Regions from separate parts of the Homo sapiens genome. Here region 2 is linked to region 1. The links come from fine-mapping of genetic effects on gene expression. A gene starts in region 1. The other region holds a variant in brackets. All regions are shown on one strand. Distances are between the middles of the regions.

Region 1 (2,912 bases):
GCAGCAGACTTAACATGGTATGCTCCTGTGGGGATTCATACTTTATTTCTGGCTTGCTTTTAGGGTCCCAGGGCAAGTCGATATTAAAGAGATACTAATAAATTGCTAAATGGAAAGGGAGACTAGGACTCAGCTGGCTCCAGGCCTGAGCTTCTGCCTTGTCCCAGAGGGAAGCCAATGTTCACAGCAGGGCACATGGAGTTACCAGTTGTCCACCCAAAGGAACTCTCATCCCCTTCACTAACCAGGGAAAATGTCATATTAAGATTGTCCTCCTGTTGCAGTGAGCCGAGATCATGCCACTGCACTCCAGCCTGGGCGACAGAGCGAGACTCCGTCTCAAAAAAAAAAAAAAAAAAAAAAAAGATTGTCCTCCTTCAATCTTTTTTTACTATTAAATGAGAGCTTTGTATTAAACTATTCAGAATTGGGTTGTCCTTGTTTTTAGGTTCCCACACTATCTCTTTTGAATAAAACATGTTGTTGGGTGACAGCCCTTAGGGTTTTTCTCAAATCATTTCTCATGTGAATCCCCTTCATCCTCACTGTCCTTCCCTTAAGAAACTGGCGTGTGATAATGATGATTTAGAGGTCATTTCTGCTGACCTCATCCCTGAATCAGAGGAAACAGCATGGAGTAAGTTCTAAGTTCGGGGCCCACACCATATCAAATTTAGGCCTGGGGAAGGCAGTATGGCTCTTTCCAAACCCTCCAAAACACTACTGGGCTCCAAGACTGCTCAAGGTCTCACTGATAGTCAAGGCTTGTGCTCCTTTTTTTCAGAAGAGTAAGATTAAAGAAAACCACTGTGAATTAAAAAGTGTGGGTGCCAACATGGGACGGGAGTCCCCCCTCACTCCATGGATGACATAGAGGGGGCAGAAGATTACAGAATTGGCATTGTCCTGCGTGGAAGCTGGGCCACCCACAGTGGCGTGGGAAGCCTCTCAGATGCTGGATTCTAATGGGCTCTTGATCACCTTGGATTGGGCTATTTCATTGTTATCACAAAATAAACAGGATGCTCCAAGTCATGTTATGGCAGAGAACCAACCAGCTTCACACTGGTCCTCTAAACCAATCCTCACAACAGGACTGGGAGACAGGTGTTACCTTTCCCACTTTACAGAGAATGAAACAGAGTGGCAAAGCCTCCGAAGGACCCTACACTTCGGACATCGCAAAGCAGGATCTGAGTCCCGGCTCCTCTGTCCAAACCTACTTGCTAGGCTTTCTTTCCCATGTCTACTCTATAGCTGGAAAGGTCGTGGAGGACACATTTTAGGCCAACCCTCTCGGTTTACAATCCAGAGAGGGGAGACCCTCAGAAGCCAAGCGACATGTCCACGGCTACGCGGCGAGTGTGTGGCAACGTGGAAGGGGAGCCCGAGACGCCCTGGTCTCTCCCTTCTCTCGCAGGTTCCTTTCTCCCCGAACGCAGCCCGCAGGGGACGCTGGAGGAGGAGCTGAGCTGGAGTTGCCGGGGCCCCGGGACCGGGCGTTCCGGGGGCGGTCCCCAGCAGCCGCGCATTCCAGAGCCAGCAGCGCGTCCTGGCCGCTCCTGCGCTCTCCCGCCTCCCGGGGCTCGGAGGAGCCGGGGCACGTTCCAGGAGCTGCCTAGGGCTGAGGTTCCAGGCCTGGGGGTCGCTTCCAGCTGCCAGATCCCGTGCAGTCCTGGGGACCCTGAGAAGCACCGAGCCATCCCTGACCCAGGAACTTTCCGCAGACTCGCCGCCATCTGGGGTGAGTGGGGCCACCGGGGGATTGTTTGTGGGGCTCTGGCAGAGCGGAGCTCTTCGGATTCGCGACCTACCTCTAGTGCGGCCCCTTTCCCCGGGCTCCCAACGTTCTTCTTTATGTCCGGTCTCTCCTCCCCATTTCTCCCTTTTCATCACTTTTGTATTTCTTGCCCTCACCCCCTCCTTTTTCTCCTGCTGTCAGCTCTTAAGTTCGAGCCTCCTAGTGCACAGAATTTTGGGCCTGGGGGAGGCGGAGCTTGGGTGGGCGAACCCCAGCCCCACTCGGAGACTGGCTTCTCTCCGGGTCCGCTGCCCTTGCCTTCTCGGGAAGCCTCCTCCTCGGGCAGACTGCCACCTCCTGGCTCTCCAGGCCCAGCGTCAGGGTTCAGCGCCCGGGCCTGAGCACCTGCTTGGGCGCTGCGCTGGGTTTGGGTCTTTGCACTTACCTGTCCCGCTTTTCTCGAGGCCCCGTGTAGAAGGCGCCAGGAGTTTGGAGTCAGGAGTGGCGGGTTCCAGCCCTGGTTCTGTCACTAACTGCTTCACCATCCTTGTTTTTCCATCAGTGAAATTGGGAAAACATTTTCTGCGTGCAGAAAGCAAAGGAGAAAGGACATGAGCAAAGTATCTTGGAGAGAAGGCTTCCTTCAAGCTCCCTCCTGCTGGTTAGCTGTCCCTTTCCTGAGGACGTAGTTGTTCCAGTTGCTGGTTGTTTTGCTCCCTAGTCTCCCCCATGCCAGTTTCTTGAGGGTAGGGACTGCCTGTCTATCGTCATCTCTGAGGCATTCTCAGCTCTTGGAGCAGGGCCTGGCTAACAGTAGGTGCTCCATACATATGTACTGAGTGAAAGGATGAAAGGTGTAACCCCCCCCGCCCCCCCCACAAATTGAAACAAACCTCAGGGGCTGTTATTCTGATTGAGGGCCAGGCTGGGCTCTTACTTATGCAGCTGCACTTGTTTCTTCTGGACCAGCTGGAATCCTGCTGCACCTGGGGGCTGAGGAGTCTCCGGTTCATCTGTGGTGAATACTAAGGTCCTCAAAGCTCCAGGGTGTGGTGGTGAAGGCTGCGCAATCACACAAGTATCAGAGATTCCTTGAACATCTGCTATGATGCGTGCTGCTACTGCAGTGGCCACATAGTTTGGAAGGATTGGGGATGCCTGAATTAGGTGG
Region 2 (2,912 bases), 100 kb after region 1:
TTTCCAGTTGTACGAAGAATAGTTGCATTATGTTAGGTGTAATTATGACCTTATTATTGTCTTTGTTTGAAGATTATGTATGGTTTCAGGAGATGTATATGGGTTCAAGTTGACAAGGGGAGGACTTGTGATGGTTAATATTGCCAACTTGATTGGAGTGAAGGATGCAGAGTATTGTTCCTGGGTGTGTCTGTGACGGTGTTGTCAAAGGAGATTAACATTTGAGTCAGTGGACTGGGAAAGGCAGACCCACACTCAATCTGGGTGAGCACATTCTAATCAGCTGCCAGTGAGGCCAGTATTAAAGCAGGCAGAAGAACGTGGGAAGACTAGACTGGTTTAGTCTTCCGGCCTACATCTTTCCCTCATGCTGAATGCTTCCTGCCATCGAATATCAGACTTCAAGTTCTTCAGCTTTGGTATTCAGACTGGCTTCCTTGCTCCTTAGCTTGCACACGGCCTACTGTGGCACCTCACCTTGTGATTATGTGAGTCAATACTCCTTAATGAACTCCCCTTTATATATACATCTATTAGTTCTGTCCCTCTAGAGAACCCTAATGTAGTAGGTGTTATTATTATTCCCCTTTTAAAGATGAAGAAATCAAAACACAGAGAGGGTAAGTAGCCTGCCCAGGATCACATAGGTTTTAAGACAGTGACACCTGAGGATAGGTTGGGTACCATGCTTGCTAACCCTATAGGGCAGTGACTTCACTCTGCAACCTTATGAAGCCCTCTGAATAATTACCTCATTTTTATTTTTTATTATTCAGAATTTCACGGGTGACCTAAATAACCACTAGGTGTTTTAGTTTCCTAGTTTGCATTTTTGCATAACTTAAAGATTTCAGGTCATTGAATTTCATTTGCTTATACTTTTTTGTTTGCATGTTTAAATCAATTTTGCTTCTTGTACAAAGCAAGCCTTGTTTTCCTCAGAGCTCTAGAAACCAACAAGTGTACCCAAACCACAGCCACGTACCTCTTGCTTGCTGAAAGGATCCTGAGAGAAAAGCAAGACAAAGAAATACAGATCAGCTCCGCAAGCCCTAGAAATAGCAAGGCCCAGCTCAGGTGAGAAAAAAAAATCTTCACTGATTTTAGTAAGTTTAAAGTTTGGAAATAGTAAACTTTTTTTTTTGTTGTTGTTGTTGTTAATGCTTCCTAACTTTGTGAGGCTAGAGAGTACAAATAGTGATCCCAACTTCCTGACTCAGCTTCCTGATCTGTAAAATGGGAGTAATAATACTCTCTACCTCATGAGATTGTGGTGAAAGATATGCAAATCAATAGATGTGACATACTTAGGACAGGGCTCCATGTGTTTGTTGCCATTGCTATGAATTTTTACCACCATTATTGTCTTCAGG[A/T]ATAAATGACTACCCTTCTTCTCTCTTCCTTCCTCTACCTCTTCCTTCCTCTCTTCCTCTCTTCCAGCTCCTCCTCCTCTCTCCTCATCTTCCCACCTTTTTTTGCCATATTACTTTCCACTTAAAATAAAAACATAGAAAGGGTTTACTTTTTGAGCTCATCACTATGAAATTTATTTAGAATTTATCTTTATCCATTTAGATATAGGTAATTTGTAGAATTGTAGTAAAACTGAAGGGTATTCCCAATTCTGAATACATCTGATTTGTGCATCCAAATATGTATATTTATTACTGTTATAAGGTCTATATAATTATTATTATTGTGTAATTATTATTATTGGAAAAGATAAATGTATAATTATTGTTGTTATATTATTATTATTTAAAATTTGTTATGAGAATAATTATTATTGTCTCTTAGGATTCTTTCAGTAAGAAAGAAATAAGTGGCTGCAATGTGGGTATACCTGTTGGTTTCCAGGGCTCTAAGGAAAACAAAGTTTACTTTTTACAAGAGGTATAATTGATTTAATGAAGCAAATGAAAAAATACTAGCAAAATTCAATGACTTGGAATCTTTAAATTATGCAAAAATACACACTAGGGGTTAAAACACCTAGTAATTACTTAGGTCACTCTTGACTCTTGAAATTCTAAAAACAACTGCATAAAAATGTTCATATCAGTAAGAAAAATCCAAAATGCTGATGGTAGCTGAGATGGATGTCAGTGTTAGATGCATAAGAAAAGGTAATGAGTAAAAAGGGAAAGGTAAATGAAGCTTCCAAGGATGTGCAGGTTATCCAAAAATTTAATTGCATGCCAGTGTTTATTTTTGTTAAACTGGCTTACTTGCTTCCATCAGAAGTAAGAAATGTAGATGAGGTCTGTATTACATAAATGTGCATTGAAACACCAGTGTCAATCAGAAAAATTAGAAAAATCTTTGTTTTCAGATTCTCTTTGCATTTATTGGTAATTTAAGCACTAAAGAATTATTCATGTGTTAAGAATATGTCATCATTAACCTCTTTGAATGAAAGCAATGTATTCATTCATCCATTTAAAAAGTAATGCTTGCCAAGTACTTAGTCTGGCCAGGCACTGTGCTGGCTAGGCACTGGGGGTATAACTTCCACAAGGCTCACATTCCCTACCCACTCTCTTGCAGCTGGCCTGCCATGAGAAATACCTCAAGAGTACTCCAGAGAATTCCACAAGGCCCAGAAATATGTAAGTATTTAGAAACTTTCTACAGTGAAAATACACAATGAACACTAAGGATAGAAGCAACAGCTAAGATCACTTTTTATAAAACATAGTGTGGGTCACAGCTCATTGTGATGGGGTAGGCCAAGGCATGAGATTCCAGAGAAAGAGCCCAAGGTAAAATTCAAGGGTACACTTACTTCTTAGGGTGGCTTCTTCAGCTGAGTACCAGATAAAAAGATAGCTTGTGTTGAAGCAGTATATTGTAAGACTAAGGTGTGTCTTAAACTCAAGAATTACCCTCAGAATGAAAAGCTGCTCATAAAC

Evidence for each region. PIP is the estimated chance that this variant, and not a neighbour inherited with it, causes the effect.
Region 2: its variant is fine-mapped to the expression of SMIM3 in whole blood (INTERVAL, PIP above 0.99).

Annotation. Positions count from the first base shown.
Region 1 is chr5:150,777,229-150,780,140 of GRCh38, forward strand. SMIM3 (small integral membrane protein 3) reads left to right here and starts at 1,529. Exons shown (of 2, transcript NM_032947.5): 1 at 1,529-1,744. LOC124901110 reads right to left here. Exons shown (of 2, transcript XM_047417995.1): 1 at 2,679-2,912; 2 at 1-2,323. The coding sequence starts at 1,893. The coding sequence ends at 1,252. RefSeq lists a silencer at 1,424-1,613 and an enhancer at 2,051-2,912.
Region 2 is chr5:150,877,038-150,879,949 of GRCh38, forward strand. It overlaps a transcript of IRGM not described here. Among named protein-coding and RNA genes, the nearest start is that of ZNF300, 26 kb to the right of the region's middle. The variant A/T (reference allele first, on the strand shown) is at 1,374.